Homo sapiens: one gene and its partners. The protein of the gene in region 2 purifies or fractionates together with the protein of the main gene of each other region. This does not show direct contact. Each region holds a gene or a part of one and is shown on either strand. Other genes may lie near its edges. The genes, in order: KLHL20, MITF and RBPJ.

What was found.
Region 1: the proteins of MITF (region 2) and KLHL20 purify together in Homo sapiens (affinity purification with mass spectrometry; one large-scale study listed by BioGRID and IntAct). This does not show direct contact.
Region 3: the proteins of MITF (region 2) and RBPJ purify together in Homo sapiens (co-immunoprecipitation; one study listed by IntAct). This does not show direct contact.

Annotation. Positions count from the first base shown.
Region 1 is NC_000001.11:173,752,770-173,756,506, reverse strand, and holds part of KLHL20 (kelch-like protein 20), read right to left. Parts: intron 3,295-3,737; coding exon 3,200-3,294; intron 585-3,199; coding exon 469-584; intron 1-468. UniProt on the Homo sapiens protein: Substrate-specific adapter of a BCR (BTB-CUL3-RBX1) E3 ubiquitin-protein ligase complex involved in interferon response and anterograde Golgi to endosome transport.
Region 2 is NC_000003.12:69,878,764-69,882,500, reverse strand, and holds part of MITF (microphthalmia-associated transcription factor), read right to left. Parts: intron 3,368-3,737; coding exon 3,118-3,367; intron 1-3,117. UniProt on the Homo sapiens protein: Transcription factor that acts as a master regulator of melanocyte survival and differentiation as well as melanosome biogenesis.
Region 3 is NC_000004.12:26,432,219-26,435,423, reverse strand, and holds the end of RBPJ (recombining binding protein suppressor of hairless), read right to left. Parts: 3' UTR 501-3,205; downstream 1-500. UniProt on the Homo sapiens protein: Transcriptional regulator that plays a central role in Notch signaling, a signaling pathway involved in cell-cell communication that regulates a broad spectrum of cell-fate determinations.

The DNA of each region.
Region 1 (3,737 bases), on a different chromosome or scaffold from region 2:
CAGGCTGGAGTACAGTGGTGCAATCACAGCTCACTGCAGCCTTGACCTCCTAGGCTCAAGCCATCCTCCTGTCTCAGCCTCCCAAGTAGCTGGGACTACAGACATGCACTACCACACTCAGCCAATTGTTTTTCTTATTTTTTGTAAAGATGGGGCCTCCCTATATTGCCCAGGCTGGTCTCAAACGCCTGGCCTCCAGAAAGCTGTATAGGCATGAGCCACTGTGACCAGCCAACATTTTTGGATTTATATAAAAATAGATATTAAAGGTGTTGAATGAGAAAAAAGAATAGAGCACTCTTTTGGAGTATATCAGTGTGGAATCATGGGTTATGAGTCAAGCTATATGCTGACTTATTATTTGTGTCTTATGACAGTAAATATCATAATTGTCCAAAGGATTTTTCAAATGACAGTTTCTCACCTGGGAAAATACTCAATTTACTAACAGTATATTAAGATCCAAACCTGCAAAGAGTACTTCCCCACATCGGATAGGTTTCCGTGGTCTCGTCCTTGGTCCTTGCATTAGTGGTCGTTCTTGCGGCAATAGGAGGTAGTTTTTAGCCTCATCTACCAAGTCTCTGTAGAAAAAATTCTGCCTTTATTCCAAATATCTAAATTACATTGTTAGTTAAGTCCCAATGTAGTTTAGGAATATATAGGTTGGCAAAGGGAAGCAAGCATAAATCAAACCAAATCATGAATGCCAGCCAATATTAAAATTGGCACAAACATGAAACCAATAATGCCAGTCAAACTGAGTTGTGAATTGATTGGTATTTCCATCATGACTCATGTCTCACTGCAAATTTAGCCTAAAGCTCAACATGCTTACAGCCAACAATAACTTATAGAAAAGTAAAAATTACAATTTGATTACCACACTGCAGAGTTACTACTTTTTAATAAATTTTATTAGATTCTGCAAGATATTAGCAAGGTAGCACATCAGCCAGGGCAATAGTTATTTGCTAGATTAAAGTAATAAAACTGGGTCAAAAATCGGATTGCTGAAAAGAAACACTGTACTGCCACAAATTTGCTATCTGGTAACATATGAATGGTTTACTCTCAACAAGTCTACCGAGACATATTTCCTGTCTTGTTAAGACACTTTAAGAGAAGAGTCTAGTAATTACACATGTAATGACTTTGCAGTGGCTCACGCCTGTAATCCCAGCACTTTGGGAGGCTGAGGGGCGGTGGATCATGAGGTCAAGAGATTGAGACCATCCTGGCCAATATGGTGAAACCCCGTCTCTACTAAAAATACAAAAAGTAGCTGGGTGTGGTGGTACGCGCCTGTAGTCCCAGCTACTCAGGAGGCTGAAGCAGGAGAATCGGTTGAACTTGGGAGGCAGAGGTTGCAGTGAGTCGAGATTGCACCACTGCACTCCAGCCTGGCAACAGAGCGAGACTCCGTCTCAAAAAAAAAAAAAAAAAAGACAAAGACTTTGATCTCCTAATAGCTTGTTAGGTCATTTGAGGGTTCCTACAAATAATACTATAGAGCTATAATATTGAGCAAACCAACACAAAATTAATGGTAGTAACAACACTTACAGCTATGTGCTAGTCCTGGTTTTAAGTGCTTAATAGATATAAACTCATTTAATCTTCACAACAGCCTTATGGAATAGGCACTATTATCATCCTCACTTTATAGAGGAAGAAACTGCAGCAAAAAGAAGTTAGGATATCAGGAAGGGTCTTCTTTTAAATATGACTTCATAAGTACTTTTACTTTCTGCATCAGAATCAGTACAATACAATCTGATTTACTTTTAATGGAGGAGGGCATCTATGTATTATTTCTTCAGATTTCAGCATGTATAATGTACATGGTTTTCCTTTTTGCTACTGCAAATATTTAGGAGAATTAATTGCCATTTGTCTGTGTGTTTTTTTTTTTTTTTTTTGAGACTGAGTTTCACTTTTGTTGCCCAGGCTGGAGAGCAATGGTGTGATCTTGGCTCACCGCAACCTCCACCTCCCAGGTTCAAGCAATTCTCCTGCCTCAGCCTCCTGAATAGCTGGGATTACAGGCATGCACCACCATGTCCAGCTAATTTTTGTATTTTTAGTACAGATGCAGTTTCTCCATGTTGAGGCTGGTCTCGAACTCCTGACCTCAGGTGATACACCCACCTCGGCCTCCCAAAGTGCTGGGATTACAGGCGTGAGCCACTGCGCCCGGCCTGTCTGTGTTTTAAATATAGAATACAAAAATCTAGTTTAACTCTAGTCTATGGTAAACTGAAAAATGAAGAATGATTAATATAAAAAAGATACAATAAAATAAAATAGAAACATCTAAAATCCCCTCCAGCCTCTCCTGTTAAAAGAACAGGCTTTAGTTTATAGAAGAAATGCAAGTGAATCTACATGTCCTACCACCATTCTAGAATCAGGGATCATTCTAAATGTCTTTAATCACCAAGGGAGGTTCAAAGGTCAGTGTAGTTTACAAAGTTCTGAGTATGGATTTTCTCTTTCACTTTTATATTTGGGACATGCTGGGGAAAAATGGTTAACAATCCCAGATGATTTCAGATTTGAACCTAAATCTTACAATCTGTCAAATTGGGAATGTAATTTATTACATTTTGTATATACTTTAAAGACAGCCTAGTAAAATAGGTTGCTTTTTTCCCCCCCTTTGAAAAAGTAGTTAAGAGTTTCTTTCGTCAAAAAACCTCTGGAAACTGCTTCACCTAGTTTTAGTGAAAATCTTTCTACAGCTGTTTTAGAAAGTGGCAGATCTTCAACTCTGTCCACAATTTAGAAAGCAAGGCTGATTCTATTCCCCAACCAGACATATGTGATGGAAGGAAAAAATGTTCATTGACAGAGTCAACAGCATTATTTAATTATCTCAAGGAAAAAAAAAATATTAGCAGAGAATTGACTCTTTAAATTCAAGCCTGCATTAAAATCTTGGAAATCTACCTTTTTATTGCCACTTCTACACCAGTAAGCACCACACATAAAAACCTAATGGAATGAAACACTGGAAGTTCAGTTCTCTCTTCTTCTTTTCCTCCTCTTGACTCTAGCCCAGAAGAAAACCTTGTTAAATTAAAGCCCTGGTTTCAGCTCTGCAAAATACAATATTTAGGAAGCAATACAAATAAGGAAATTAGGAAAAAATAGGAATGCTTAGTTGTTGATTTTTCCCATCCAGGGTCACTCATACCTGCATTCTTCATCACTTTTGATGAGGGGATCAGAGCCTACTGTGCCGACCAGGAACTTGGGACTAAGCAAAGGCAAACGAACATGCTGCAGCACCTATGAGAAAATAAACACCATTATTTTAATTAATTAATTTTGAGATAGGTCTTACTCTGTTGCCTAGGCTGGAGTACAGTGGCATGATCGTAGGTCACTGCAGCCTCAATCTCCTGGGCTCAAGTGATGTGCCTACCTCAGCCTCCAGAGTAGCTGCAACTACAAGTGCATGCCACCATGCCCAACAAATTTTTGTATTTTTTTTTTTGTAGAAACGGGGAATCACCACGCTGCCCAGGCTGGTCTCAAACACCTGAGCTCAAGTGATCTGCCTGCCTTATCCTCCCAAGTGCTGGGATTATGGGCTTGTACCACTGCACCCAGCCAATAAACACTATTAAAGGCATGAGCTCTCATCTATAAGCTATTTAAGAGAATACATGACCCATGGTACCCTACTGTGCTTCCAATTGTTTTGGGATCTCACCGAATACCATAAATAA
Region 2 (3,737 bases):
CTCCAGGTGTTGGTTAATTTATGGTAAAAGAGCATCCTTAAATTACAATACCCAATTGGGTAAGGTTGTTCTTAAAAAACTTGGAGAATATCTTTACTATGTAAATATATAGCAATAAGACTCATGATTCCATGTCCCCAAAAATGAAAATCAATATGAAGGAAAATTCATATATTATTAAATCAATATAGAAACCAGAGGCTAATCTTACAAAGATTCATGAACTTACTCACGGCACAATGACTATACGTTGAGGAATGAGTGGTGCAGATTTTCGATCTCTAACCCAAAATCTGACTAGTCCTAAGTTTACCAGATGTCAATAACTTTTAAACATGCTTTATAAAGCTTCATATTTTAAATTTTACTCTGCCAAAAAAAGGGATTAACCTGAAAACACTGCTTTAGCTTTTTGAAATCAGTCATTCATCCAGATAGCAGAATGTTGGTAACTTAACTTTGTGTGTGTATGAAAACTAAACTATGACCTTTCTTCCCTCTGGTTCTTACAAACAACTTGGGAGACGGAGAGATTTAACCAGATTCTCTAGTGCATGCAAGTGTGACTAATTGTATACATCTACCTCCACTGAGAAGCAGGCATGTTCTGTTTTAGCAAGTTAAACCTTTAAAAATTAAGCGAATTTACTCAGGCCATACTATGAGAAAATATTTATTCAATATAATCTGTATCATAATGCACTCAATTAGTATACTTGGTATTACCATTCTTTGAAAATATATATTCATGGAGAAATAAATGGTCCAAGATTAAGCATATTAACTGTTTTGCTATTAACCACTTACTTCACAAAATTATGCTTATGATTTAAAAACTATAAAAAAGAAAAAAAAAACCACCTTTCTCTCACTTATCTTTCTATAATGTTTCATAATACTTTTATACACAAAATTTTGAAAATAAGCCAACTATATTTATGAAGTCCTAAGTCTTTAAGTATCTGAAGCAATCACTTATATGATATTCTCTTTAAAAATGTTATCTGATTTTCTTAAAATATTGTCTTAATAAAATCGTGTATTCTTATTTGTTTCTTCATTTAAGAATACCAAAATTTGTCTAAATAGCTATCAAACCTAACCATATAGCTATGGCAATAATTCCTTATTTTTATTTATATGACATAGTTTACTAGTTTATATAACTGAAATATAAAAAAGCAGAAGTTAAATAGACAGGAACTATATTCAGAGTGAAAGAGAAATTTACCTAATACTTATTTTTAGTTAGAGTATGTCGTCCAGCTGTAACAATTTATTTGTGCTTTAACTTTGGACATTTTTCTGGCATACATAAGTTAGGGGTTGTAGCTCAATCCAGTGTCACCAGGACACAGCAACATATAAAAATATTGGTATGTTATTCAAACAACTTAATGTAGATTTTAACTTTAATCATTTTCAAAAATAATATATTTACAGTGACAAAAGCATTTAGAAATTATGCTCACTTTTAAGATAATCTGGAAATGATGTTTCAACACATTTTCATTTGGGTAATTTCCTCTCTGTTGTAGCTGCCTTAACAGGAATATTGATTTTAATAAAAATTCTTTAACATTACCTTCAGTTGGATATAACCCACTAGTAGCCCAAATCCATGGCAACTCTTCTAAAATTTGCCCTACAGATTATAAAGGTGAACTATTATGATGAATAAAATAGACATATTTCTCCACATCTTGTTACTATTTAATTCATACAATTTTAAATAACCTAAGGTATACACAATGATTATCACCCCTGCAGGCATGAGACAACAACATAAATCTTAAATAATTCTTAAATCTATAAAAACTTAGTGATCATATCAATTTTCACCCAAGCAGAACAGAAAGATTCAATGCATCATCTACTCCAGAGAGAAAACCTTGAGTTAACTGACGGGTAAAAAAAGAAAGAGGAAAAAATCCATTAACTGTGGCAATATCCAGAATTTCAAACAATCACATTAGAGTAAAACTTTATGCTAAACTATTTGTATCTTTTTTCCCTAACCCAATTTCAGTTGGTTTCTTCATCCGAGTTCCATTATTGCATCACTATATTTTAAGTCTTCGCAAATAAAAAATAATTGACTCTTGATTTGTTTTTTAAAGAATCTCTTTCCTACTTCCTGGTAAGGTTCACAGATTGATTCCTGATTATAACACATCATCTCTCTATTTACTTTAATAGTAAACTTTAAATAATGGGAGACATTTTTTCTGTGCACATGGATGAATGCAAAAACCAATAATGAATCACCGGTCTGTAAAGTTCACATTGTTTAATGAACAGTAACACTTGAGACTTTTCAGAATTAGGTGAGCAGGTACTAAAATAAAAAAACTAAAAATAAGGAAGTTCCTCTACTTTCCTTTTAACTTTCCTTGAATCAGTCATATTTAAGAACTGAAATGTTTATTCTTAAACAAGGAGTATCTCCCTATGTGATGTGGAAGACACGTGTGAGATGGAATTCTATTCTTAGACTTGTTACAATTTTCCTTAGTAATTAGGAAGCTATATGTCCCTAATCGAATGATGCTAACAAGCTCCTGCAGTTTCTACTCTAGCAAGAAATCAAAGAGACCCAAAGCAGACAACTCACTTCAGTAAAAGGATTATGTAGTCTGGTTATCAAAGCGCAGAAAGCTCTTCTTCAATCTTATATGTGAAGAGCTCTCTAAAACAGTCAGATTTTACAACCAATATTACATACTAAATAAAAAGAAAAGTAAAGAGTGGCTATGGAAGGTATTTAAGAGAAAAATATTTAAGATACACAAATTATCAGAAGAGGCCCACCTCAGATAATTCTGGTTTTGAAACTTTCCCAAAGAAAGATGTCATCACAACAAACATGTATTCCTACTTGCAATTTCTCATGGAACATTGACTCCCACCATTTACTGATTGTTACTATTACAGTTACAATGCGTTTGCATCCTTCTTTTAAAATATAAAGCCACGTAAGAATTAAGGGAGTTGGAGTTTTCAAATATAATTCTGAAGGGTCAGTCTAACAAAATACATATTCAGATAAACAAAACACCTAGCAAATGGAAAATGGAAGAGAGTTTGGTCCAACCAACAAGAGCAACACTCACGTACCTTAAGGACTTCCATCGGCACCTGCGTGGCAGAGGGAAGGGTGGTGGGCACACTGACGTTTATGGCTGGTGTCTGACTCACGGGCACTCTCTGTTGCATGAACTGGGCCGCCTGCAGCTTCTGCTGCTGCTCCCTGCGCTCCTGCTCCTGCATCTGCTCACGCATGAGTTGCTGGCGTAGCAAGATGCGTGATGTCATACTGGAGGAGCTTATCGGAGGCTTGGAGGCCCCAGGATGCTCGGCGGAACTGCTGTGGGAAAACCAAAATGCATACAACATTTAGTTTCCTAATGAGACCCTTCGTTTGCACTTTGGGGGTATCCTAAATTGCACCAAACTATAAAATGAGTCTGCGCAAATATAATCAAGTCACAGAATGGTACTCCACATAATTGAAAATCAAGAGGTGACAGGATTTAAGTCATTAGTAGTTGAATTAAAATAAGTCAGCTTGATTGCATCAAGGCATTTTTATCAGGCGGCTTAATTTTTTTAATTTTTTTTTTTTTACATTTTATGCTGCACACTACTCATCACCACCAAATATAGCGCCACCATATGCACTGCCAAGAAGCAAAGCATCTTAATGGCACCCAAATTTCCACATTTAAAAATAAATT
Region 3 (3,205 bases), on a different chromosome or scaffold from region 2:
GCACTCCAGCTCAGGGGCGACAGAGCAAGACCCCGTCTCAAAAAAAAAAACTTATGTAACTTCCCCATTTAACTTTGTTTCATATTAAAGAATACTATCCCCACTTCTAGGACCCACCCCCACCCCTCAAAGGCAAACGATTATGTGTTCCTTCCTATAGCAGACAAAATGACCATCTTATATTGGAAAAGTAAGTTATTGCTAAGTAATATTCTCAAATTTTGTTGCAATCAGCTTTAAATGATTCTGATTTGAGAGATATGACCCTTGAGTGACAAAGCCCATTTCACCATTTACACAGGGAAAAAAAATCTCTTTAAAGCACTATATAGTTAAAAACATTGACAAGGAAATTAAATTAGTAGAGCTATCACTTTGATGTGATGTACATGGTAAGATTGTAAATACACCAACTATAATATAGAATTTAATTTTATCTTTATGAAGTATTCTGAAATAAAAGACGATAATACATGCATCAGGCACATTCGACAGAAGACTTTTACAATGGTTTACATTTCCTTTTTATTTATTCCTTGAAACTGCTCGTATTGCAAGTTTTTCACGGATGAAATATGGAACTGAGCAGATTCTTTTTTTCTACAAAATTATGGTATAAACTTGCTCAATTTTCTATCTTATTGCTAATAAACCTTACAGGCGCACAGTTTGTAAAATAAACCCCTTAAGGACTGAATGCGTAGAGCATGCTGCAAGGTACAAGAAATAAGCTAAAAATGAGCATATAAACCTACATCTGGACCAACACAGTACTGAATGCTGGCAAACATTTATCACAACACAGGGGAAAATTAACAAAAGGAGATACAGTTCAGTCCTGAAAGGGTTAAACAGAAACCCTAATATATTATTGTTTCTAACCATCCATCCCACATTACAGTGCTTGAAAACAAAGTCATAAGTCTGGCACAGAAAATTACACACATTTGTTCAGTACTTATCAGAAACACAGCTGCTTTTGCAATCAAAGTAACTTGGTTACTAACTGAACAGCATTTTGTTTCAAAAGGAACCTCCTCCCCAGTGGATTTTCTGGTTAGCATGACTAGTTAGGTTAGTTCTCAAAAATGGCATTGGAAGTTTTTTGTGAAAGCACAGATGGTACCAGTTTCATTAAAAACAATAAAACAAAACAAAACAAAAAAACTAACCAGTTATGATTGCAGATAAGTCTGTGCAGTAAGAGTGACAAACATTTCACGATTAAGTCATGTATAAACATGCCTTTAATTGCCACAGTTTAAAGAAAGTGAGCAGCAAATTTAGATAGTATACTAGTGTTCAACGCTGAAATCACTCAAAATATAAAGGGCATTTTTAAGGCTTTTAGCTTGCCTTCCCAATCTATGTGATAAATTAAATGGAACAAATAAAAACATATTGGATCAGAGACTCAGCTTCTATGTGTATGTTTAGAAACTGCATAGTCATGAGAGCATAAGATACATTTCTAAAACAGAATTTTTTAAAAATTCAAACATACTATAACTGAAGCACTCACCATTCTAATAAGAGAGTCTTTCTGAGGGTAAATGACCAGCATGTCTAATAATGCCATCACTGGAGGAGGGCACACAGTCTACTATAACCAGAGGACAAGGTTCCTATAAATTACATACTGAAAATGATTCACAAAACCATGAAAGAAAAAATGTAAGCAGCTGACAAAAGAACTACTGATAAACAATAAGCTACAATGGACAAATCATTTCACTCTTTAGTCTGTGGTATGAGAATGGCCAAAAATAGGTGGGGAAAAATGCCTGTATAAGTACATTCTTGGACTTTTCAAAAAAAGAAAAGAAAAGGGTTTACAGTATAATATTTCAATTATCTTACGGAAAGAAACTATCAAAATAAAACATACATGTTTGTTAAAAAAACACAAGTTCATTTTAATAAGGTCATGAACTTGAAAAATTATTTTTGAGCTACAAAAATGGGTAAGGAATAGTTTGTTCTTCAAAAGTATCTCTTTTGTTATTGGTTAATTTAATATGATTCCTTAACTAAATACCAAACCTAGGAAGTGGAGGAAACTTGTGGCCGTTAAAGCAAAGCAGCACTAGGAACATGTCCATGCTCTGAACAAAAGCACTGTGTAATGATTCCTGCCATGACTCCATAGAGAGGAATAACTACTACTCAGAAATAAGTGGTCTGTAAGAAAGAGACAGTGAACAATTACAACAAAGAAAGATAAGGCCACAATGAGTTCTGCCCTTGATCACTGAAACAGATTTAAGGTGTGAGGCAGGATTAGCTTATAAGAGAGAAGTGAGTGATTGGAGCAGATTTGAAGAAAAAAGGCGATATAGAATAAAATGCAGCCTGGGGGTGATTAAAAAGGCTTGCAGTAAGAGAAAACCGCAATAACTGATTTAACCACCTAACGTGCTTTACAAATGACCTTCCCCTTGAAAACTGAGGAAAAGGCGATTTAAAGATGTTAGGAAGAATATTTACAGTGGCATAGTCTGAGCATAGAGTGAGTGATGAAGACAGCAAAGCTGGAAAAAAAATGCTACTAATAATAATTTCTAAAAAGTCTATTAATGGAAACTTTTTCAAAACAGCCCAGGACACCAGAAAGACAATGTTCTGTAGGGAAACACTGTAGGAAGTTACAGTTTTGCATTCATAAGGTACTGTGGCTCCTGTTTTATGGGACAGTAAAAGCTTACCACAATCTAGAGGTAGTTTTTACTCTAAGAGGGATGATTGTATTACTAGACTGTGTTGTATAACATTACACACGTGGTTCCTGTACTAAATGTAGCCCAATGAGTCTGCTGCAATTTCGAAGAAACCAAACAAAGGCATAAACAAAGTTCAGGAATGAAAGCACGGTAAAACCGGCGGGGTTAGCAAGCAAGGCCAACCTACAACCCTGAATGCAACCAAATCTCAACTGAAAAGAAAAGAAACATTTTCTGAGTTAGGAGACATTTGTGGAGATGCTCAGTACTGGAAAAGAGAAAACAAACAAACAAAAAAGGCAGAGAAAAAAATGAAAACATAAGTTACATTTGCATTTTATAATCTTACAACTATCTGTTTCTAAAGTACTGTCTTCCAGCTATTTTAGTTGATCATCTAATAAAAGCATCTTATGTTTTAAGATTACAATGATGTTCTGGCTAGGCTACCCCCTCCAACCCCCCAAAAAAGTAAAGATAATAAA